Linked DNA regions of Homo sapiens. The protein of the gene in region 1 interacts with the protein of each later gene in a pairwise test. Each region holds a gene or a part of one and is shown in the gene's direction. Other genes may lie near its edges.

Region 1 (3,500 bases):
AAAAAAAAAAGAAAGAAAGAAAGAAAGAAAGAAAGAAAGAAAGAAAGAAAGAAAGAAAGAAAGAAAGAAAGAAAGAAAGAAAGAAAGAAAGAAAGAAAAGAGGTGTCCATTTATTGATGCAACTCAGGACAGCTCCCACTGTCTTGTCTTTTCTTTTCTTTTCTTTTCTTTTCTTTTTTTTTTTTTTGAGACAGGGTCTTAGACTCTGTCATCAGACTGGAGTGCAGTGGTACAATCATGGCTCACTGAAGTCTTGGCCTTCTGGGGTCAAGTGATCCTCTCACCTCAGCCTTCTGAGCAGCGCAGCTGGGACTATAGGCATGCGCCATCATACCCAGCTAATTTTTTATTTTTTATTACAGAGATGAGGTCTCACTATGTTGCCCAGGCTGGTCTTGAACTCCTGGGCTCAAGCAATCCTCCCACCTAGGGTTTCCAAAGTGCTGGGATTACAGGTGTGGGCCACTTACGCCTGGCCTCCCACTATCTTTGTTTGAGAACTTTTGATATATACAAGAGGTCCATTCTTCCGTAAGGATGTATTTATGTCCTCAGCTGCAGACAAAGGATTCTGACCACTGGTGGTGTTGGAGCCTGTGGAGCTCAGTGGCCAACTTTGACCTTTGAACTTTAAAGAAGTTCTTAGTCCTTCAGTAGAGAACCTGGAAATAGAACTTCAAATTGTTCAGGTCTATCTGACATGTCTTGGTGGAAAACTGAAGGTCCTTTGCATTTAAGGCTTTGGAGACAGAACGGAGACTGAATTCATGAGACTTCATGCAAGCTTCCATGTCTCTATGTACTTTAATTTCCTTATCTATACAATGAAAATAATACTCACACATAGAGTTATTATGTAGATGAAAAGAGAAAATGTATATAAAAGCATGAGACATAACACCTAGCACATAGTGCTCAATAAATACTCATTATTATTGGAAGGCAGCAGACAAGGGTAACATTTATATTGAGGGATGGAAAATCGGGCCTTACGCTCTATTCTAGGGTCAAATCTGTTGGTATGATCTTATAGCTCACTCCGTGTCCATCTGGTTAGCTGGATAATTTTTTATTTCTTTCAGTCGGAAAGCAAGTGTATACTTTCATAGTTTTGAGGGTCAGAGTTCCTGATTTTATGGGATTTTTGAAATTAAAACAATTTATAATAACTTAATCTCCAATTGCAAAATGTTATTGACACTGCATTTTAATGTAATGTGTATATATGTAATTTCCCTGCTTTAAGGGAGGGTTCAAGACTGACCTGTTTGTCTAGACTTGCTGAATATGTCTCATTATTTTCTGTAATAGTTTGGAGATGATGATGCTATTCTTCTCAATGCAAGTGGAATCTTGTTATACTGAAGTTAGATTTTGCCAAAAATTTTCCTATACATGAAAAGTCAAGAGACTTACTTAGCCACATCCTCTGTTTATGCTACATTGGAATTTCATGGCTAAAAATACAAGGCGTGACTTTCCACTGTACTCACAGGCATTCACTGTGTGCTTTTCCACCTTTGCTGGTATTTGTAACAGTTGGCAGAGCACCAGGATAACCTCTTGCCATCCTTGACCAATATCATGATCACCATGGGCTTGAAAATTGTATAAACATGGAAGCAATCACATAGGTAATCAAGGATATAGAATCAGTCGGATATAAATCTCACTTTGCTTCCCATAATCATGAGTCTTACCTTTCTGCTGTTTGAGCCAAAGCCATTCAGTAGAGAAATGTTGTGCTGGTTCTCCAGAAGTTCAAGAGTAAAGTGATATAATATGGAATTCCATTCAGGACTTAGTAATATGGAGAGTCAAGGAATGTAGCACTATCATAGACTAAGAATTTGGAAAAAACTTTCTAAACAGCCTCTTTGTGGATACAGAGGTTTGAGAGCTGTGGCAAACTGCTTTTTTTCTTTTAAATTGCCTACTAGTCAGGAAGAAATCTTTGCTTAAAGTAAGCATTCTTAATAGGATAAAATAATTTTGGGTTTCATATGGAATAAAATATAAGCAAGAACTGCTAAGACAAGTTTGAAAAGGGAAATTTATGTGGAGGTATTTGCCCTACCATATATGAGAACACTGTAATTAGTCTAGTATTTGTTCAGGAAAAAAGAAAGTTATTTATCAATGAGCTAGAAGAGAATTTCCAGAAAATATTTTGTGTACACTTGGGCATTTAATAAATGATAAAGGTGACACTTCAGTATAGTGGAAAATGGTTTATTTTAGTAGATTATATTGACACACTTGCATCTCAATATATTAATAGAAAAAATGGATTAGTCTCATACCTGTTACCATGCAAAATATAAATTTTAAGTCAGTTGAAAATATAAGCATAAAAGTAAAAAGTAGAAGACAATATTTGAATGCCCTCGGATCAGGGTAGGTCTTTAAGATAAGAAACTCAGAAGCCATTAAAAAAACAGCTCTGACTATATAAATGTTAATTATGGCAAGTCATAAGCAAAGTCAAAGATATACACCATGCTTGGAAAAAATACTTGTATTATTCATGGTAATATGAGCCCTAATTTTAAAAGAACTCCTACAAGTTGAGAAGAAGTCTGACAAGCAAGATTGTTTAGAGAGGAGGACACAGAAGAAGCCACTTGACATGAAAGAAAGCACAACCTGATAGAATCCAGAGTGTCGGCTGGGTGCAGTGGCTCACGCCTGTAATCCCAACACTTTGGGAGGCCAAGGTGGGTGGATCACCTGAGGTCCGGAGTTCGAGACCAGCTTGGCCAACATGGTAAAACCCATCTCTACTAAAAATTAAAAAAAAAAAAAAAATTAGCCTGGTGTGGTGGCGGGTACCTGTAATCCCACCTATTCCAGAGGCTGGGGCAGAGAGAATTGCTTGAACCTGGGAGGCGGAGCTTGCAGTGAGTCAAGATCAGGCCACTGCACTCCAGACTGGGTGACAGAGTGAGCTCCAGCTAAAAAAAAAAAATAAAAAAAAAAAATAAGAGTGTAACAAGAGTGAGATCAATTTTTCAATGCTGGCATGACAATTAGAAGGGACTGATCACATCCGGAGTAGGCAAGATTGTGAAATGTAGCAATCTTTTTGGAAAGTAGTCTGAAAGTATATATTAAAACAAAAAACACAGACTTTTACATAGCAATTCCACCTTGGGAATTCACAGAAAGAAAAGAATCATTTCAAGTGAAGTATGTATGAGAGTGTTTATTATAACATTATTTATAATGGCAAAAAACTAAAAGCAACTGACCTATGGTTAATGAAGTGATTGAAGAAATTATGGCATATTTAGATTATGGCATATTTCGCAGTTCTTTAAAAGAATAAGTTTAAATGTATTGGTCTGAGAGGATGTCTGTGATAGATGAAGTGGGAAAAAAAGCAAACAAGTTGCAGAGTAAGGTATATTATAAGGTTCCTTTTTTTATTTTTAGAGACAGGGCCTCCTTCTGTCCCCAAAGCTGGAGTGTTGTGGTGTGAGCATAGCTCACTGCAGCCT
Region 2 (3,938 bases), on another chromosome or scaffold:
TCTAATATCCGTGTCTCCCAGCCCTAACATGAAGGTAGAGCTAAGGAGATGGTGAGTGTGAGACTAAAGGTTATATGAGGGATTATTAGGGCACGCCACAAAAAACTGCTGCTCTCATTGGGAAAGTAAATGGAAAATAATGGTAATGGAGTAGTGGAGTGGAACAGCAGCAAAGAGGAACTGAAGATAAGCTATCCTGAGTAAAAGCAACCCAGGGTTCCTATGGGAAGGAGACTTTTGGCAGAGACATGCCACATTATCAAATAAAAAAGGGCAGAGCCAGGGCATAAAGCACGTCTGAAATAAGCTATCCACAATCAAAGACAGTCAAGCTAAAGAAAACAAATTCCAGCCAGGAAACAGAAGGCTGGTTCTGGAAAGATTTTTTGAGGCAATGCTACATAGAGCAGAGGTGTGGAGGAGAGGACAGGGAACATTTTTAGCAGCATCCTCTAAAACGAATTCTATTTCATATGTACTTTATGAAAGGGGGAAAGATTGCAGGAATTACAGGCCCAAAATCCCCCCAAATTCCCGAGGCTCTGTCTATTATAGTCCTTTTCTCCAGCACTCTCCTTTCCCTCCCACTCAGGCTCTTTCGATCTTGTCAACAGAGCAGGAACCACGAAGTTCACACTCTGAACTTCTGTCTTGGAATTATGCCAGTATCATAGTGTGGGGGCAATAAGTGGGGATTCATTGAGGGAGGCAAGACAAACATGTTAACAGCCTTGAAGAAATGCCTTTTTAGTACAGAAAAAGGGAGAAGGAATCAGGAAGGGATTTCTTACCAAACCTCAAAGAAGATCGTTCTTTAAAGAGTGCTAACTTCTCCAGCTTTTAGTGGGGAATTGCCCTCCATGGGGATTAAGAGACCAGCGCCTTTTAATCAAAGGAGGGCTGTACGTTCAAATAACTGGGAACAGCTGAGTGTCCCACCCAACTCTGAAGAACAAAACAGCTACACGAAGCCACTCCTGCCTGCAGTATACAATGCTATGTTTTTTGGCTAATTCTCCAAGGATATTACACTTACTTTCAATGGTTAATGAATAGCTTCTAAGTGCCTGTTTCATTTAGTTGTCCAAAGGCCAGTGGGTCCCAGAGCATATAAAGCTGCAAGCTGGCTAATGAGCTCATTCTCTTGGAGCAAGCAGGGAAGCAGAGGAGCAGCAGGGTCAGGGTGCTGGGTTCCTAAGGTGCAAGGATGCAGAACAGAACTGGCCTCATTCTCTGTGCTCTTGCCCTCCTGATGGGTTTCCTGATGGTCTGCCTGGGGGCCTTCTTCATTTCCTGGGGCTCCATATTCGACTGTCAGGGGAGCCTGATTGCGGCCTATTTGCTTCTGCCTCTGGGGTTTGTGATCCTTCTGAGTGGAATTTTCTGGAGCAACTATCGCCAGGTGACTGAAAGCAAAGGAGTGTTGAGGCACATGCTCCGACAACACCTTGCTCATGGGGCCCTGCCCGTGGCCACAGTAGACAGGTACGTGCTGACAGGCAGAGGGACCAAGAAGGGCTGAGATGGGCTGAGTTGTGTAAGATCTGAGTAATTTCTGATCCTACTATGGAGCGACTTACATGTCCCATGGGCTGTCTGTCTAGAACCAAAGCTTTATTGTCAGGGAATTACTCTGGGGTTGTTATTAGGAAGAGTGGCGCCATCTTTGGGGAAAACCATGACGCAGGGGCAACTCATCTCAGAGAAACCCTACCACCACCCCCAGTGAAAACCCACCTAAGCCAATTTAGAAACCCAGGCTCTTTTGTTATATCATGGCAGCTGTCATTAATTAGTGGCAGGTGATGGTTAGTTACTTCCCATAACCTGGCTATGAGGTTCTAAGGAAAGCAAGTCCCAGACCAAATTCTGCCACACAACAAATGAAGAAGCAGGCATAAAATGAGTCCTGGAATCTCTGTGAGCTCAGAAAAGTCCCAGTTTACTGTCCTTTTAGGTGTTGTGATCTCACCTTGCATAAAACATTCCTTCAGGGGAAGGTGATAATATTCTAGAGGCAAGATTCATTCTTTCTCGCCATCTCATACATTAGGATAGTTATCATCAAAAAACAAAACCAAACAGCTAGTGTTGGTGAGGATGTCAATAAATTGGAACGCTGTGCATTGCTGGTGGGAATGTTAAAATGGTGCAACCACTGTGGAAAACAGTGTGGAGACTCCTCTATACATTAAATATTGAATTACTGTTTGATCTGGCAATTCTACATTCTGAGTTTATACACAAAGGAACTGAAAGCAGGGATTCAAATGGATGTTTGTACACCAATGCTTGTAGCAACATTTATTCATAATAGCCCAAATGTCCATCAACAGGTGAGTAGATAAACAAAATGTGGTATATACATGCAATGGAATATTAGCCTTAAAAAGGAAGGAAATCCTGGCACATGCCACCACTTGGATGAAGTTGAAAACATTATGCTAAGTGAAACAAGTCAGTTACAAAGGGCAAATATTGTATAATTCCACTTACATGAGTACTTAGCGTAGTCAAATTCACAGACACAGAAAGTAGAACAGTGGTCCCAGGGGCTGGTGGAAGGAGAGACTGGGGACCTATTGTTTAATGAGTAGAGAGTTTTAAGGTGATGGTTGTAGAGCAATATGAGTGTATTTAGTGCCACTGAGCTATACACTTAAAAACAGTAAATTTTATGTCATATATATTTTACCACAAGAAAAAAAAGATTCAGTTAATCTTATAGTCAGTATCAGGCAACAAGAAACCTCCTAATTCTTGGCTAGCCACAGGACCATTTAGGGATAACACCCTAGGCATCATTCTCAAGATACAGGCTACAAGACTATAATTATTTTGCCCTCTTCGTGCAAGAGTAGAAAGTATCTAAAATATTTTAGCTACTCCATGTATCTTGAATATAAGTAATCTTACCCATGAGCATCCACTTTTGGCATCCTTTATGCTAATTAATAAGATAATAATTATGAAAACCAAAACTTATTTCCAATGTTATACTAACCAGCAGAGTTTCTGGGTTTGATTAAAAATTAAGAGAAATGAAGTGATTGTAGAAGATGCCTCTAGAGTGATGATTTCTTTTTGTATAAATGTTAGAGGACTACCTCTAGAGTGTGAATTTCTGATAAATGTAACTGATTGCCTTTAGGATATAGCTTAAATTGACTAACACTGCATAATATTACAGTATACTGAAATGTTTGAAAGTAAATTATGGACATCGTAACACCCCCATTTTACTGCCTCTTCTCGCTGCATGTAATAAGATGCTTATCCCACGCAGAATGGCTGGCAAGTCAGCCTGGGAAGTCACATTTCTCCAAAGCATTTGCACTCAAAATGGATACCCAGGTTGAGATATCAAAGCAAATGGGTCTCCGATGATGGAATTCAGGGGACTGGGAATATGGATGGCAGTTGAAGGAGGGTGGGGTTGGGAGAGGTAGCTGGGATTTGGGGCAGGCAGCAGTCATCCTGGAACCTTTCACATCACTCCAGGGAACATCTCACCTTTCTGTGTAAAATGCCTTTACACATGTGCCCCGTGACTCAGCCTTGGCTATTCTGAGCGAAGGCTGAGATTTATGCCTTATAGTAGACAGCTTCTTCAGCTACTGGCTTTGGGCCTGGTAACATTTGGAATGGAGTTGTGGCTACAAATGGCAGTCCCTGTTCTGTTGTGGTTACACACCATAAACACTCCCTGTAGGCACTGGAAGGATCACTCTATAAATACACAACTCAGCCAAGCTCACCGGTCTCTCTTCCTCCCCTCTCCCCTTCCCCCAAATTCATTCATGATGGAGAAGCCAGGAGGATTTAGCAATTAGAAATGCCAGGCAAGATGACCAATGAGTACATCAGCCCCCGAATGAATGGCTGCTTTAGCCTACTGGCATAGAAAGGGCTACAACTGAAATCTGTGTAAAGTTGTC
Region 3 (3,500 bases), on another chromosome or scaffold:
GGAGGTCAAGGCTATAGTGAGCTGTGATCACACCACTGCACTCCAGCCTGGGCGAAAGAGCAAGACCTTGTCTCAAAGAAAAAAAATAAAAGGGAACAGGCTTCTGAATTGAGTGTAGGCCAGTAAAATACTCCCTGGCCTCAAGTGTCCCATTAAATAGTTAACAGGGAGACCACTAGTTGTCTCATAACTGACAACTTGGGACAACTGAGGAATGAATGTCCAAAAGAGAAAAGGCCTCTCTGATTGTGTGGGAGCCAGGGCAGTTTCCCATTCATTTCCTTATTCAGTCCTTTCTGGGCAGCATCCCATTTTACAGCGAATACAACTGGCATAGAGAAGCAAAGCAACCCACTCCCAAACTATGCAGTATAAGGGCTGGGGTTGAAATTTGAAGGCAGGTCTTGGTGTTGTTAACTTTGCTCCATGGATGTAACCCCTAGTTCCTATTTTTGGTTTCTCATGGTCTGGTCGGGGAGGGAGAAAGAGGAATCAGCAGGTTATTAACTATTAACTATTTCCCCAGGCTCCTTCACCACCCAACATTCTACAAGAAAATCCACAAGAAACACCATGAGTGGACAGCTCCCATTGGCGTGATCTCTCTCTATGCCCACCCTATAGAGCATGCAGTGAGTAGAGCTCTATGCTCCCCAGAGCAAAGGGCAGATGGCCCCAACCACCTTCCTGAAGGTCTCCTGCAGAGAACTTAGACCACACCGGCCCTTTTTCTTCCCATTTAAAAATAGCTACCATTTATTGTCAGCCTTCCATATGCCAGGCTATGTTAAGTGCTAACACAGTTGTCTCATTTAATCATCCCAACAACTTTCTTTTTTTCTTTTTGAGACAGGGTCTTGCTCTGTCACCCAGGTTGGAGTGCAGTGGTGTGATCATAGCTCACTGCAGCCTCCAACCCCTGGGCTCATGTGATCCTCTAGCTTCAGTCTTCCAAATAGCTGAGACCACACGTGTGCACTTCCAAATAGCTGAGACCACACGTGTGCACCACCAAATCTGGAGTCTCACTGTGTCATCTTGGCTGGAGTGCAATGGCATGATCTCGGCTCACTGCAATCTCCCGCCTCCCGGGTTCAAGCCATTCTCCTGTCTCAGCCTCCTGAGTAGCTGGGATTACAGGCGTGTGCCACCACGCCTGGCTGATTTTTGTATTTTTAGTAGGACAGGTTTTCACCATGTTGGTCAGGCTGGTCTCAAACTCCTGACCTCGTGATCTACCCGCCTTGGCCTCCCAAAGTGTTGGGATTATAGGAGTGAGCCATCGCACCTGGCCACATCTGGCTAATTTTTAAATTTTTTTGTAGAGTCGGGATCCTGCTATTTTGCCCAGACTGGCTGGAACCCCTGGCCTCAAGCAATCCTCCCACCTCTGTCTCCCAAATTGCTGGGATTACAGGCATGAATCACCACACCTGGCTCCTCCAACAACCTTTTTAATCTTAATTTTGCTAACAAGAAAGTTGAGGCTCAAACTGCGTAATTTGTCCCAAGTTACAAAGGTGAATGCCTTCAACAAATCAAAGTCCCGAAACTCTCACCTTCTCCAGATCTGGGTCAAGGAAGTTTGCCTCTGGTACCACCTTGGGACTAAGTGTATACCCAACTAAGTCCCTTCATCTCCCTGGACCCTGCCTTCAATCATCCCTCCTCTTGCAGGTCTCCAACATGCTACCGGTGATAGTGGGCCCATTAGTAATGGGCTCCCACTTGTCCTCCATCACCATGTGGTTTTCCTTGGCCCTCATCATCACCACCATCTCCCACTGTGGCTACCACCTTCCCTTCCTGCCTTCGCCTGAATTCCACGACTACCACCATCTCAAGTAAGGACCTTCTCCCCACAATGGGTCCCTAGGCAACAACCATCACCCTCCCTCCTTAAGCTTCTGATAGCAGGCACTGGTATCTCAGTTTACATGTGAGTGCTAGTTGGGGAAGAGGTCTGATGGCTGGGAAAATAACCACACTGGGATGACCTTACTCTTTTCCTTCTGAAATTGGGTCCTCCTCCAACTGGGGGTTTTAAACCTTTATTTGGACTCTGGGCCCTTTGAATAAGCTCTGGACATTCTCTTTAGAAAAGTACATATATGCATAAAACTCCTGCAGGCAATCACAAGGAAGTCATGTATCTCTGAAAGCCCCAGACTTTTTCAAGTGTAGTCTACAAACCTCCTATACCAGAATCACCTGAGATGCTTGTTTAAAATATAGGCTCTTGAATTCCACTCCAAATATGCTGAACTAAGGTATCTGGGGGAGCAGGGCCTGGAAACCTGCATTTTAGTTAAGTGTTCCAGGGGATTCTGATGCTGGTGATCTCATACCTGAAGAAGCCTAGTTCTGCTAGAGATTCTCAGACTGTGGGCATCAATCACACAGCAAGCTTTTCAAAGGAGGACTCCAGATACGGCAAATTGCAGGTTTGGAGTGGCCCCCGGGAGATGCATTGGTAGCAACTCCCCAGCTTATTCTGATGCAGATGGTCAGGATGGTGGTGACAGGTGTGGGGTAGGAGGGCTGAGAAATGTGTGAGGCTGGCACAAATGAAATGGGATCTGCACGGAAGCCTCCAGCATGGGCACTGCAGTGCCGTCCTCTCTCTTCTAGGTTCAACCAGTGCTATGGGGTGCTGGGTGTGCTGGACCACCTCCATGGGACTGACACCATGTTCAAGCAGACCAAGGCCTACGAGAGACATGTCCTCCTGCTGGGCTTCACCCCGCTCTCTGAGAGCATCCCAGACTCCCCAAAGAGGATGGAGTGAGAGACAGCCTAAGTGTCATCCTGGCTGTCCCTCAGCCATGGGATGCAGACACGGCTTCCTGATTGCACCTAACAATTTGCCTCCTTCGGCCACACGCCCTAATGATGGCACCACCAGGGTAGAGGGAAGGTCGGCTTCCCGGAAAAGCAGGGCCAAGGATGAGGCTTTCTTCAAACTACTGCCCTTGATGTCCCTCAATGGGATCAGGAGTTAGCTTAAGAAAAAGGAAAACACAGCTCCCCAGACTGGAGGCTGGTCAGAGGGAGGAGACCCCTGGTCCTCTGCTGTGGAAGGAGAGGGGTTCAGCCCCAGATAACTCCTTTGTGGCCTGGGCAGGATGCAGAGAATGACAAGGCTGAAAGGAGGGGGACTGGAGGCTGCCTGGCTCCAGCGAGAGCTCCTTCTGGGACCAGAGGGTGGGACGGCCAGGTATCACTTTGCCCCTTCCTGCCCCAAAAGGCTTTCACATACCCGACTCAGGCCAGAGCCAAGACACCCTGGCAAATCATTATAGGTCTCAATTCATGACATACCAGATGCCAGTCGCCACTTCACCCAACACACACACAAACATACACACACCAAACACTCTGAGTGAGTGGTAAAGGCCCCGTTTTAACTCTGGCCCACCGCAAACAAAAGGTTTCCCTCTGTGGGGGAGAAAAAGAAATCCAGGAGCTCCTCCCTGGATTAAAACCAACGAGGTGCAGAC
Region 4 (3,500 bases), on another chromosome or scaffold:
GGGTGGGGTGTGTGCGTGTGTGTGGTGTGCTGTGGGGAGGTTCCTGGGGCGGGCTGGGCTGGCAGGTGTGGGGTGTTGTGGGGGGCCTGCTTGGCGGGAGGCTTCTGGAAGGGCTAGGGGTGGAGCCTCTCCCAATCTGTGGATCCCAAGGAGGTTCGCCCCATCGAGCCCTTCCCAGGCCCTGCCCAAGCCTGAGGCCTCACCCTTCCCCCAGGTCTCCTGAATCTCTGCCTTCGATGGCAAAACCCTGCAGTTTGGGAGTTTGGGGGCAGCTGTGCTGGAGATTCTGGGGTGCTGGGGGCAGGGGTTCAGCAGGGCAGATGCCCCAGCCTCGCCCTCCTCTCTGGACTCCCCCAGGTGTTCGTACTGGCGTTCACCTTCCTCATCCTCTTCCTCGGCAACTTCCTGACCACGCTCAAAGTCGTGCATGCCAAGCTCCAGAAGAACAGAGGCAAGACAAAGCAGCCGTGAGCCTCGGGCTCCTGTGCCCTCGGCCCGGACTTCAGACTGCAGGGGGCTCCCGGGCTCCTTCCCAGCAGCCCTCTCAGGCCCGTGGCATCGCTGGGAGAGGGCCCAGGCCCTGGTCCCCCAGTGGACCCCAGTGGTCTAGAGGAATGTGAGCCCCGCCTGTCCGCACAGTGTCCGCCCACCTATTTATGACATATTTAATGCTGGGTCCCCCATCGTCCCTGGAACCCGAGGCCTCACTCCTGTGCTTGAAGGTGGCTGAGGCCGGGCCAGTCTTCCTGGGGATGGGGCCTGAAGCCTCAGGGAGCCCCTCTGTTCCCACTCCTGTCATTTGAACCCCTCTGGGTGGGGTTTGGATGTGCCTCGCGGGGTTGGATTTATGCTGACCTGCTACTTACCAGGCCCAGGCTGGGGTGGTGTGAACCCTCAGTGTCCTGTGGCGCCCCCACCCCGGGGCCACTCTGCTTCTGCTGTGAGCCCCCTCCTCGCCCACCCCGCCACGTGGTGAGGGTTATTTTAAGTTCTCAGAGACCCACCGCGTCTGCCTCGTGCTCTTCTTGCCCCTGGAGCGCTGGGGGCATCCTGAGTCAGGCTGTGAGAAGATTCGCCACCAGAGGGCGCCCCGGGCCCTGGGTCGTCCAAGGGGACAAGGACGTTCCCGTCTGTGCTTCGGGGTTCCCTGACCCCCCCATCCTGCAGCCCACCTTCCTGCAGTGTCGTGGCAGGTACTTGGAGAGTGGGACCAAGACCCTTGGCCCCTGTGGAGGGGAACCACCTCCCCCCTCCTTCCCAGAGCTTCTGGATGTTGTGGGAGGGAGGTGGGGGTGCCTGGCAGGCTCACCCCCAGGGGCCGCACCCTGAGGCGGGGTCAGAGCCACTGGGCATCGCTTGGGTGAGATTCTGCATTCGACGGGAGGCAGAGAGGCCACCAGGTTTGGCTGAGTGCTCTGCCCCACCATTCATATATGGGCCTCAGCTCCCCCTAACTGTGGCCCTACAAATCCCTAGGCCAGACCTCACAGCAGTGCCCACAGGCATGCCTTGTTTAGCCCTCCTCAAGGAATTTTAAAATTTTTAATTACTTTTTTTTTTTTTGAGACAGGGTCTGTTGCCTAGGCGGGAGTGCAGTGGCATCATAGGTCACTGTAGCCTCCGCCTCCAGGGCTCAAGGGATCCTCCCACCTCAGCCTCTGGAGTAGCTGGGACCACAATCACACACCACCATGCCCTGCTCCTTTTTTTTTTTTTTTTTTGAGATGGGAGTCTCGATCTGTTACCCAGGCTGGAGTGCAGTGACACAATCTCAGCTCACTGCAACCTCTGCCTCCCAGGTTCAAGTGATTCTCCTGCCTCAGCCTCCCGAGTAACTGGGACTACAGGCGCGTGCCACCATGCCTGGCTTTTGTTTTGTTTTGTTTTGTTTTGTATTTTTAGTAGAGACAGGGTTTCACCATGTTTGCCAGGATAGTCTCGATCTCTTGACCTTGTGATCTGCCTGCCTCAGCCTCCCAAAGTGCTGGGATTACAGGTGTGAGCCACCATGCCTGGTCACCCTGCTACTTTTTAATACTTTTTAGTAGAGATGGGGTCTCACTATGTTGCCCAGGCTGGTCTCCAACTCATGGGCTCAACTCATCCTCCTATCTTGGCCTCCCAAAGCGCTGGGATTACAGGTGTGAGCCACTGTGCCTGGCCTGATTACATTTTTAAAATGAGATTTCCCCACCCCTACAGTGAGATTCCACATAAAAATCCAGATTTCTGCTTTCCCTAGAAAAACGGACCTGGCAACATTCCCGTGGCACAGGACGCCTACTCTCCAGTTGCCACAGGCCCTGCCACCCCCCTGCCCTTCATTCTGGTCTCCTTTCTGGTCCTTTTTAGGCACCTGCGTTTGCCCTAGATTAGGAGTCAGCTAGCTGTCTGTAAAGGGCCAGATGGCAACTATTTTGAGCTTTATGGGCCAGGTGGTTTGTGGCAGCTACTCTTCACCTGCAGCCCCAGAGCACAAGGCAATGCAGAAAGGAATGGGTGTTGCTGTGTTCCAATAAAACTTTATTTACAAATCAGGCTGTGGCCAGATGTGGCCCACAGGCTGTAGTTGTTGGACCTCTACCGTAGACCATCATGAGGCCTGGGGTTCTTCGAGAACAAGAACTCCTTGGTTGATTCCCCAGGGTACGGCAGGGCCTTGGGAACCTGGGTGGGTTGGGGAGGGTCTCAGAAGGCTCCTTCCTTTGGCAACCTGACTTCTTGGAAGCTCAGGTTTAGCTGACGCCCCAGCACTGGGCCAGGGGGGCTGAGGCAGGAGATATGGGGAAGGCTAGGAGTTGCCTGAAGCCATTATCCCATCTTAGGCGACACCGACTCCTAGGCGCCCTCCAGAGCCAAGCAGCTTGCGACTTCTGGTAGGCACCGGAATCCCCTGGGATGCTTGTTTTAAAAGTCCTGGGCCGGGCACGGTGGCTCACGCCTGTAATCCCAGCACTTTGGGAGGCTAAGGCGGGTGGATCACGAGGTCAGGAGTTCAAGACCAGCCTGGCCAACATGGTGAAACCCTGTCTCTACTAAAAATACAAAAATTAGCCGGACGTGGTGGTGTGCGCATGTAGTCCCAGCTACTCAGGAGGCTGAGGCAAGAGAATCGCTTGAACCCAGGAGGTGGAGCTTGCAGTGAGCCAAGATCATGCCACTGCACTCTAGCCTGAGTGACAGAATGAGACTCTGTCCCAAAAAAAAAAAAAAAAAAAAATTCCCAGACCCTCGGCCCCAGACCTTCCCAAAGGAGGCTCAGGGATTAGGTATCTGGCTGTTGGTGACACAGGTGGTCTATGAACCAGTTCTGAGAAACTGTCCCGCGTGGACAGGGGGTAGATCCCATCAGTTCTCAAAGGAGGCCAGGATGTCTCGCCTCCTGAACTCCACAGGCTGGTAGAAGCGGGGCTTGAGGGACAGCAGGTTGGGAGCTTGAGGACTAAGTGGGCCAGTCCTGTCCTACCACAGTGGGGGGAACAGTCCACAGAAAACTTGCT
Region 5 (3,500 bases), on another chromosome or scaffold:
CGACTCTCCTGCCTCAGCCTCCCAAGTAGCTGGGATTACAGGTGCCTGTCACCATACCTGACTAATTTTTTTTTTTTGTATTTTTAGTAGAGACAAGGTTTCACCATGTTGGCCAGGCTGGTTTCGAACTCCTGACCTCAAGTGATCTGCCCGTCTCGGCCTCCCAAAGTGCTAGAATTACAGGCATGAACCACCGTGCCAGGTCTAATTTTTGTATTTTTAGTAGAGATGGGGTTTCACCATGTTGCCCAGGTTGGTCTCGAACTCCTAACCTCAAGTGATCTGCCCTCCTCATCCTCCCAAAGTGCAGGGATTACAGGTGTCAGCCACTGCATCTGGCCTGGGCACAGTTTTTCAGTGGGAGCCCAGAGGGCACTGATGCCCTCATTTCTCCTTACCAATATCAAGGATGAGAAGAGGGGTCCAAGCAAAGAGACTAACGGTGGGGAAGTGGGCAGCCAGTAGACAGCTGGGCCCAGACCTGTTCTTCCCCCCAACATCCTTCCCCTCTCCTCTTCTCTTTACAATTTAACTTTTTTCTTTTTTTGAGACAGGGTCTCACTCTGTTGCCCAGCCTGGAGTGCAGTGGTATGATCATGGCTCACTGTAGCCTCAGCCTCCTGGGTTCAGGTGATTCTCCTGCTTCAGCCTCATGAGTAGCTGGGACTACAGGTGCTCACCATCACACCCAGCTAATTATTATTATTATTATTTTTTGAGGCAGAGTTTCATTCTTGTTGCCCAGGCTGGAGTGCAATGGCATGATCTCGGCTCACTGCAACCTCTGCTTCCCAGGTTCAAGCGATTCTCCTGCCTCAGCCTCCCGGGTAGCTGGGATTACAGGCATGAGCCACCATGCCCGGCTAATTTTGTATTTTTAGTAGAGACGGGTTTCTCCATGTTGGTCAGGCTGGTCTCGAACTTCCAACCTCAGGTGATTCACCTGCCTTGGCCTCCCAAAGTGCTGGGATTACAGGCGTGAGCCACTGAGCCCAGCCTGCTATTGTTTTTTAATTTTAATTTTTTGTAGAGATGAAGCTTTTGCCATGTTGCCCAAGCTGGTCTTGAACTCCTGGGCTCAGGTGATCCACCCACCTTGGCCTCTCAGCGTTGGGATTACAGGCCTGAGCCACTGCACTTGGCCTACAGTTTAATATTTTAAACCATTTTTTCCTTCATTATAGAAAAGTTCAAACAAACACAGAAATAGGATAGTATGATAAACTCCACTAGCCAGCACCTAGCATCAACAATTAGCAATAGTTAATCAGATTTCCCCTGAAGACCTCCACTGTCCTACTATTGGATGATTTTGAAGTAAATCCTACCTAGACTTATTTGGAAATACTTTATTATGTCTCTAAAACATAAGGATGTATTGTAACAAAATCTTTCAAAGCTAAAACTCCTATCATCTGCAAACCTTTGGGTAAATCCATTAATACATGGCTCAGATGAGCAAACCAGTGCAGTGGTTGCTGAAAACTGTAGGCCAGATGGGGCTGGTGGTCTTGGAGCCACTGGAATGAGGGCACGTGTGTTAAAAATACAGATCCCCAGCCGGTGCCTTGGGTCACGCCTGTAACCCCAGCACTATGGGAGGCTGAGGAGCGAGGATCACTCCAGGCTGGGAGTTTGAGACCAGCCTGGTCAACACAGGGAGAATCCCGTCTCTACAAAAAATATCGGGCTTGGTGGCGCACACCTGTAGTCCCAGCTACTTAGGAGGCCAAGGCGGGAGGATCGCTTGAGCCCGGGAGTTCAAAGCTTCAGTGCGTTATGAGTTTGCCTGTGAATAGCCACTGAACTCCAGACTGGGCTACAGGGCGAGACCCTGTCGAAAAAAAAAAAAAAAGGAAAGAAAAGAAAGAAAGGAAGGAAGGAAGAAAAAGAAAGAAAGAAAAGAAAAGAAAGAAAGAGAAAGAAAGAAAAGAAAGAAAGAACGAAAGAAAGAAAGAAAAAGAAAGAAAGAAAGAAAGAAAGAAAGAAAGAAAGAAAGAAAGAAAGAAAGAAAGAAAGAAAGAGAGAAAAAGAAAGAAAAAGAAAAGACAGACCCCAAAAATCCCCAAATAGATCCCTCGACTGAGCTCTGGGGACCCGTACTGAAGAGGTCTGGGTAGGACCTCCCCGCCTCCTCAGGGGAGTAAGCGGCGTGGGCCGTGCCAGCGGGGGTGACCCCGGGGGCTGTGTATGGGTGGGGGCGCACCCCGAACTGAGCCCACGGGGCGCTGTCCCGCCTGCAGATGTTCGGGCAGCGGCGCAGCGCGCAGGCGTTGGAGCTGGCGCACATGCTGTACTATCGCAGTACGTCCAACAACTCGGAGCTGCTCAGCGCCCTGGCCCTGCGCGCGCAGGACGAGCACACCAAGGAGGCGCTGCTGGCTCACAGCTTCCTGGCCCGGCGGCCAGGGGGCACTCAAGGCTCGCCCGAAGGTAGGACGTGGCCCTGGGACCCTGCCCCCAGGGGCCACACCCCCGCGAGGCCCCGCCCCAGCGAGATGCGTCCCCACCCCCAGTTCCCACGGGTGAACCTGACGGGTTTGCGAAGAGACCCCGGCCCTCAGCAGACAGGACCTCCGAATCCAGACTCCGATCTTGGTGCCTGATGTGACAGCCCTTTCTTAACCTCAGCCTGGTTGGGAGTCTTGGCTCCATGGCACGGCCCCCTCCTGTCATTCTTTCCTCTACCTGAGCTGACACTCTCCCTACAAGAGATCCTGCGCGCTCCCTGTGTGGGCTCCAGGTGGTCCCCTTGCCTACAGGAGCCCCCACCTTCCCTGCCCAAGAGCCCCTGACTGGTCCCCAGACGAAAGCCCCAGAGCTGGGCCTTCTGGCCCTCTCGACCCTCCTGGGCCTTGTTCCGCTCCCCTCCAAGCCTCAAGATCACTCCTAGGCTTCTCCCAAACCCAGGCCCTTCCTGTTCTTTGCCCTACGCCCCTCCTTGCTGCTCCCTCGAATCTTCCCCGATCTCAGTGTGACCTCAGAACACCTGCCTCTCCCCTTGCAGAGACCTCCAGGTGGCTCCGGTCGGAGGTGGAGAACTGGCTCCTAGCCAAGTCAGGCTGTGAGGTGACCTTCAACGGAACTCGGGCCCTGGCGCATCTGCAGGCCCTGACCCCCAGCATGGGATTGTACCCACCCCCGGGTTTCCCCAAACTAGACCCAGTGGCTCCGATCACTTCCGAGCCCCCGCAAGCCACGCCCAGCAGTAACATCTCCTGAGTAGAACCTACCTCCCTGCCCAGTCAGCAGGCTAGGAACTAAGCCCCGCCTCCTTCACGACAGGCTGTCAATTACGGTTATTATACTTTTCACTCCAACTTCCAATAACTGACAGGTGATTATTTTTGCTGCACTGTGTGCTTAAGCAAAGCAGCCAATCAAAGCAGCTAGCAGTTGTTAAGTCTTCCCCGCCCCTTCGATGAACAGCCAATCAAAGCGATTTAGCTCTGCTTCTGTTCCATTTCTTAGTCCCACCCTCACCATAAACATCCAAGTGT
Region 6 (3,500 bases), on another chromosome or scaffold:
ATAAATTAATGAGACATGGTGGCATGTACCAGTATTCCCATTCCAGTTACCTATAATCCCAGCTACTTGGAAGGCTAAGGCAGGAGGACTGCTTAAGCCCAGGAGTTCGAGTCTGCAGTGCAAGTCTGCAGTGAGCTGTGATTATACCATTGCATTCCAACCTAGATGACAGAGCAAGATTTTGTCTCTTTAAAAAAAAATGAGGACAGTTATTCAGAGGGATTAAGTGACTGAAATCATATAATAATAGTTCTATGTTATACCCAGTTTCCTAATATTCAAGGAAATGGGTATAAGCCTGAAAGAATTGTGTGTGTGTGTGTGTGTGTGTGTGTGTGTGTGTGTAAGGGGGGGTGAGAAAGAGAGAGACTGTGTGTACATTTGTATTAATTGATGTGATATGGTATAATATTGTATCTCAAAACCTGGCTCAATTATCCTCAATTATTTCATCCACTTTGTATTTGCAACTTATAGCCTTACCTTTTCTTTTTTAACCATCGCTTTGCTGGGTTCCTACAGTATGCAGAGACTACTGCTGGGAAGGATGAGTACTGAACCCAGAACTGATGAATAGCAGTGAACGCATTATGTGTGCCCTACAACCATCATGATCTACAGACCAACCATTTGTACTCTTTTCTTGTATTTCTATCCATCTTTTCAAGGGGATCATGTAAATGAACCAATGTTTTAGCAATTAAATTTAACTTTATACTCTTAGCCCTTTGTTTGCCTTTTACAACAATTCAACAAATATTCATTGAGTACTTACCTGGCAGTGACCATTACATGATGAGCAATATTCTGGATTACCAAGAAGAATAAAACTGATTTTGCCCTACAGATACTTACGGCGTAGGGGGAGGAGGCAGCAAAGACTTTCACAAATTATAATTTAAAGTACTAAGATTGTAAATAGGGGGAGCCCAAAAGTGGGAACAGATAAGTCCAAAAGTTAACAAGTCTGATGACATTTGATATGAAACTCAAGGTATGGGTGATTTAAGCACCAAAGAAGGTGGGAAAAGACATTTTAATTAGAGGAAACATGCTTAAAAGCTGCGAATTACAAAGGTATACAAAATGTTCTCCGATAAAGACTAATTCAGTTTAGCTAAGTTTAAAGTGCACTTGTGTGTGTGTGCACATATGTGCATATGTTCAGAGAGGAGGGTTGGGGGATGGGATAGGATGAGGATGGAAATTGCTATGGGTAGAAACCTCTCTTGTGCAAGAAAAAAGAAGCTACTGCCTCTTCTTATTTGTCTCTATGCACTTGAATTTATAGTCACAGGGGCTCTATGAGGATAATTCCAGGAAAAATGTGCAAAGATGATATATACAGTCTGTCCAGCAGTGTGACTTCTCAAGTGATTTCAAGTACTGGGTATTGGATGGGCGTGCCCTCTATGACAGGAGACTTGGAGACTTCCTTCCATACACAGGGAGGCTGAAACCTGTAGCCTGCAGGCTCAGAAAACCAGCTCAACTGAGGAATGTGGGCCTACAGGCATGAAACCTGGTCTCTTTACCCAGTGTAAACAGGAAGCCAGTGATGGTTGTAATAAGGAAAACTGAGACTCCAGGCAATGAACTGTTGGCAGACAGCACCTAAAGCAAACCTGTGGACCAGGCACTCGGCTGGTAAATAATTGGTGGAAAGTCAAGAATAATACGATGTCCCCCCTGTCCCCACCACGCACACTGCTGCTATACTTTATCCTAACCAACACACAGCCCCTGTGTAACTGGAGTTGTTAAAACCTGACCCTCTGTATTTGGGACTGAAATAAAAGAGAGAGCCAGAGGTGGGTGCATAAAAGCTTTTAGGGAAAAGTATGTGGCTGGTGGCATTCATATCAGATGACACAGCGTTCCTGTCACATAGATTTAGTTCAGGTGCTTGAAATGCTCAAGAGCCAGCTCGGGGACTTGGCCTTTTGTCTGCCTCTCCTTCAATGCACTGCTTGTCACCCTGCTTGTCTCTCTGTAACCATGCCCTCCCCTGGCTTTGAAGGGGCTCCTAGAAATGACTGGAAATGAAGTCCATCTGACTCCAATGAAATGCCAAATTCATTGAGTATGAAATAGTGCCAACTTTTACTTTCTAGCACTTTGATTTTGAGTCTACAGAGGATTCTTAAGGAAAGAAGTTTATGATGAAGCCAGAGGAAGCATTCAGTAATCCAACTGGACAAGATTTACTGATCTATGAAAAGGCATCCTGATAATCCAGACTTTGGATAATCCAGACTTTGTTGCAATAGAATTGTTGAGATGAATTATACTTTGATTTTTAAGAGATCATGGTTTGGTAATGATGATGAGGATGATGTCAGTGATGATTAAGCAGTTATTATTTATTGATTCCTGGCAACAAGCTTCCTTTATGGCCTTTGCAATATAACTCCAAATTTCAGGCTCATCTCATTCTGCTTTCCTAATCCTTTATATAATATGTGAGCACACAAGTGCATGTATGTGCACCCCTCCATTCACAGCGTGTATACAAACACTTTATTTCACTTAATCTTTACAACCACCTGATAAGTTTGATACTATTAATATTCTTATTTTATGGCAAAGGAACTATAAATTTCAGAGAGGTTGGATAACTTGCCCAAAGTCACACAGCTATGTGAGTATCATAGTTCCAACTTAAGACCCCTCTGCCTGATCCTATACTTCCTTTAGTTCAGTGGTTCTCAAGAGAGGGTGATTTTTCCCATGGGGGACATATGACAATGTCCCAGTGTCCCAGTGAGATATTATCGGTTGTCATATCAAATGTATACTTACAAAGGTATATAAAATGTTCTCTGATAAAGACTAATTCAGTTTAGCTAAGTTTAAAGTGCACTTGTATGTGTGTGCATATATCTGCATGTGTTCAGAGAGGAGGGTTGAGGCATGGGATAGGATGAGGATGGAAATTACGATGGGTAGAAACCTCTCTTGTGCAAGGAAAAAGGAGCTACTGCCTCTTCTTATTTGTCTCTACACACTTGAATTTATAGTCACAGGGTCTCTATGAGGATAATTCCAGGAAAAAATATGCAAGGATGATATATACAGTCTGTCCAGCAGCGTGACTTCTCAAGTGATTTCAAGTACTGGGTATTGGACGGGCGTGCCCTCTATTACAGGAGACTTCCTTCTATACACAGGGAGGTATCTGTCTGGTATCTGGTGGGAGGAGGATAGGGAGGCTGCTTAACATCCTAACATGCAGAAGACATTCTCTGCCATAGCAAAAGATTGTCTGGCCTAAAATAGCAATAGTCCCAAGGTGAAGAAACTTTGGTTTAGCTGTACAGACAGCCACATTTGTGACTCTACTTCATAGAAAACCAGATGAAATATTTGAGTGGAGGTATAGGTATAGGAAACACATAAGAGAAAAAAAGGTCAACTTTTCCCTTGAGTTTGTGGGAAGGCATTGTGGAAGATACAGGATTTAAGCTTGGTTTTGAGAGATGTGTTGGAGAGTCGGCACT
Region 7 (3,500 bases), on another chromosome or scaffold:
CTCTAACTTCCCAACCATGGCTGAAAGTTCCTGCAGCATCTGGAAGGGAAGCAGGCTGGGGCCTGGTGTTGGCTTCTGAAGGGGGTTGGGATATGGGAGCCTCCTCACTGCAGGAGCCTTGTGCCCATCTGCCCAGTTTGGTCCTAGGCTGCTCCGGATGTCTCACTCCCTTTATCTGTCAGCCTTTGTGAGGGATGGGGTGACAGGAAGTAGTGTGCCCATCTGCACTTTAATTCCCAGCTAGGTTAAGACAGGTCCTTATTTTAACTCACTACTCACCTGCTAAGGATCTTGAACAAAGTAGATCCTGCTGTGTATACAGAAGTCTACAACGATGAAAGTGCATGGCAAGCGTGGCCTTGGGGAAGTAGAGTGGGAAGGAAGTATTCCTCCTGTGCCTGGCCTGCTCCTGTGGCCGCAGCATCCCTGGGCGGGACACTCTTATCTGCTTCACTTGACCACCCCTTCTGCTTTTCCCATCTCTGTCCCCTGCCTGCTGTCAGGGACCCATTTGCTTTGCTCCTGCTTTGTCCTGCACCGTATATCCAGGTGTTGCCCTAAAGCCCTTTCCTGGACACCTAGAGGATGCCTTTTGGAAAAGCCTCAGACAGGTGAAGCCTGGGGTTACTGTAATCTCATCTGACCCAGTCCTTACCCTAAAAGATCAGCTCCAGCCCAGCTTCTCCCACAGGAGCCCAGATTCTCCCCAGCCTGGAGCCTAAAGCTTGTATCTGGGAATTTAAGTCTTCTTAATGTCTTGATTCCTGGCTCTGACTTTCTTCCCTGCTGCTACCCTCCTGAGGTGGCTCAGGCCAGAACCCTTGAAGGCAGGTCAGGGTCAGTGTATGAGCTTGGATTGGAGTAGGTGAAGGATGGAAGAGGCGCATTGGAAGGGCAAGGAAGAGGTACTGGCAGGACCACTGAGGATCGAGACTTAAGGTGATTGCTGTGCCTCAGGATTCATTTTGGCTATGGGGGAGGCAGTCTATTCCCTCACCTGCAGAATACCAGGGATCCATGAGCCCCTCACACCAAGGTTAGAGAAGGAAAGAGATGAGGAGCTGCATTTCTGAGAAGTAGTTAAAATCTAGATGCTCCCCTCACCTCCAAGCAGGGCAGCACTTCCTGGAACATGCCCTTTTTCATCCCCATCAGAGCAGGAAGGCGTGGGTGGCTGCTTGGCAGACGGGTGTGACTTCAGGGGCAGATACTCCTAGCCTGGATGAACAGGATGGGGCTGAATTTGGCCAAAGGAGGAAGAAGAGCTACTCACTGTCTGCCCCTGCCCATCCTGTCTACTCCTAACCTTAAGGCCACCTTGATTCCTGGGCTGGCTCCACATCTCCAGCCTCCAGCATCTCTTTCCAGAGTCCTATGCATGCCCATGTGTCAGAGGCTTTCTGCCTGAGCTGCAGCTTTGAGAGGGTTTGTGGGTGAAGAAAGTATGTGTGTAGGAATTGGCTTCTCTGACCCAAGTGCCAACTCGGGGCTTTGCTGGCCTGGGGTCAGGTCGTTTGAGGTTCCAGGCTATATTCTGTAAGAGTCGGGAAGACTTTTGCATAGGGGCTGTTACTGTGACTGCTCCCTCTCCTTGCCTGTCTGTCTCTTATCCCACTGCTCCTAACACTCCGTACTTTGTAGATCCTCCTGTAGCTATAAGGAGAGGGTGCATTGTGCTGGGAGGTAGAGAGATTTGGGGTGCTTATGGTAGCAACCAGAGGAACTTAGCTGAGCTTTATACATTTTTCTTAAATAATAATAAAAGCAAGCAATATTCATTACAAACAGCTCAGAAAACATTGCTTGCATACATGTGGAGTCTTCTTGTGGGCTTTTTCTTTCTATGAGTACATGTACATTACATACACCTACCTGTAGAAGTCAGATTTTCATGGAGCTGGCAGCTTGGAAGCAGGGTGGAGCTGGTGTTTTGGGGTGAAGATGAGCTCTGAGGCTGTGCTCTGAGAGGAGCTTTGAAAGCCCGCAAGGGAGGGGAGAAGAGGGGGATTTTTCCCCTCTCTGGAGCTGGTTTGGGAGGAAGCAGGAGGCGAAGCAGAGCAAGGCCAGACTGCAGGGAGCTGGAGCCTCAGTGGTATGTACCAGCCGTGTCCAAGAGTAACAGTCCCCAAGTTGCTCCAGGGCAGATGGGGCTCACTGGGGCTGCCTTCTCTCTGGGGGGTCTTAGGGTGGGAAGGGATTCACTTCCCTTCAGTGTTTGGAGAGGGCTGGCTCATCCTTTGGCTGCCTGGAAGCCCAGTAACTGTTGTTGAGATGGGGGGCAGTCTCTTCCCCATTGTTAGTCCCTACGGTGGGGCTTCCCTAAGGAGAGTCCCAGGTCTTGGCCAGACCAGAAGCTCAGGCAAGCGTATGCTCCAGCCCCAGTGAAATGAGTCCTTCCCCAGGATCCTGTGAGGCCTCCCACCCCATTCACACAGGGAGAGCTCCGACAGGAAAAGAGAGGTTCTTGCCTTATAGGGCCACCCAGCGCCCAGCCTCTCCTGGTCTCAAGCCCTAGCCCCACCCCCTCTGATAGCCTTGCTTATCTTTTTGGTTATTGTGGTAAAAAATGTGTAACATAAAATTTACCATCTTAACCCTTTTTTAAGTGTGCTGTTCAATAGTACTACGTATATTCACCTCATTGTACAACAGATCTCCAGAACTCCTCATCTTCCCCAGCTGAAGCTCTGTACCTATTAAACACTCACTCTTTTCCCTGCTCCCCCAGCGCCTTGCTTCCACCATTCTTCTTTCCGCCTCTATGAATTTGACTACTTAGGCTGGGCTCGGTGCCTCATACCTGTAGTCCCCACACTTTGGGAGGTCGAGGCGAGAGGATCCTTTGAGCCCAGGAGTTCGAGACCAGCCTGGGCAATATAGTGAAACCCCTGTCTCTACAAAAAATACAAAAATTAGCCAGGTGTGGTGGTGCATGCCTCTAGTCCCAACTACCCGAGAGACTGAGATGGGAGGATGGCTGGAGCCCGAAGCCATGATTGCACCACTGCACTCCAGCCTGGGCCACAGAGTGAGACCGTGTCTCAAGAAAAAAAAAAAAAAAAAAAAGAATTTGACTACTTTGGATACCTCAGATAAGTGTTTTTTATCTGAGTGTTTTATCATACAGTGTTTTTTATGACTAGAGTAATGTCCTCAAGGTTCATCCATGTTGTGGCATATGACAGGATTTCCTTCCTTTTTAAGGCTGAGAAATATTCCATGGTATATATGTACCACACTTTGCATATTTTGTTTATCCATTCATTCCTTGATGGACATTTGGGTTGCTTCCACCTCTTGGTTATTACATATAGTGCTACTATGAACATGGGCATATTAATATATCTTCAAGACCTTGCTTTCTATTCTTTTGGATAAATATCCAGAAGTGGGATTGCTGGATCATGTGGTAGTTTTATTTTTAATTTTTTGAGGAACCACCGTACTGTTTTTCATAGCAGCTGCACCATTTTATAGTCCCACCAAGAGTGCACAAGGGT

Evidence for each region.
Region 2: the proteins of SLC10A6 (region 1) and TMEM252 interact in binary tests that used the Homo sapiens proteins (3 or more experiments, as listed by UniProt).
Region 3: the proteins of SLC10A6 (region 1) and FAXDC2 interact in binary tests that used the Homo sapiens proteins (3 or more experiments, as listed by UniProt).
Region 4: the proteins of SLC10A6 (region 1) and TMEM120B interact in binary tests that used the Homo sapiens proteins (3 or more experiments, as listed by UniProt).
Region 5: the proteins of SLC10A6 (region 1) and TMEM143 interact in binary tests that used the Homo sapiens proteins (3 or more experiments, as listed by UniProt).
Region 6: the proteins of SLC10A6 (region 1) and TPRG1 interact in binary tests that used the Homo sapiens proteins (3 or more experiments, as listed by UniProt).
Region 7: the proteins of SLC10A6 (region 1) and SLC41A1 interact in binary tests that used the Homo sapiens proteins (3 or more experiments, as listed by UniProt).

Annotation. Positions count from the first base shown.
Region 1 is NC_000004.12:86,839,385-86,842,884, reverse strand, and holds part of SLC10A6 (sodium-dependent organic anion transporter), read left to right. Parts: intron 1-3,500. UniProt on the Homo sapiens protein: Transports sulfoconjugated steroid hormones from the extracellular compartment into the cytosol in a sodium-dependent manner without hydrolysis.
Region 2 is NC_000009.12:68,538,084-68,542,021, reverse strand, and holds the start of TMEM252 (transmembrane protein 252), read left to right. Parts: upstream 1-1,138; 5' UTR 1,139-1,207; coding exon 1,208-1,485; intron 1,486-3,938.
Region 3 is NC_000005.10:154,819,604-154,823,103, reverse strand, and holds part of FAXDC2 (fatty acid hydroxylase domain-containing protein 2), read left to right. Parts: intron 1-526; coding exon 527-632; intron 633-1,677; coding exon 1,678-1,844; intron 1,845-2,631; coding exon 2,632-2,788; 3' UTR 2,789-3,500. UniProt on the Homo sapiens protein: Promotes megakaryocyte differentiation by enhancing ERK phosphorylation and up-regulating RUNX1 expression.
Region 4 is NC_000012.12:121,775,252-121,778,751, forward strand, and holds part of TMEM120B (transmembrane protein 120B), read left to right. Parts: intron 1-357; coding exon 358-471; 3' UTR 472-3,500. UniProt on the Homo sapiens protein: Necessary for efficient adipogenesis. Does not show ion channel activity.
Region 5 is NC_000019.10:48,332,941-48,336,440, reverse strand, and holds part of TMEM143 (transmembrane protein 143), read left to right. Parts: intron 1-2,243; coding exon 2,244-2,433; intron 2,434-3,007; coding exon 3,008-3,222; 3' UTR 3,223-3,500.
Region 6 is NC_000003.12:189,314,971-189,318,470, forward strand, and holds part of TPRG1 (tumor protein p63-regulated gene 1 protein), read left to right. Parts: intron 1-522; coding exon of another isoform or gene 523-558; exon of another isoform or gene 559-723; intron 724-3,500.
Region 7 is NC_000001.11:205,803,199-205,806,698, reverse strand, and holds part of SLC41A1 (solute carrier family 41 member 1), read left to right. Parts: intron 1-3,500. UniProt on the Homo sapiens protein: Na(+)/Mg(2+) ion exchanger that acts as a predominant Mg(2+) efflux system at the plasma membrane.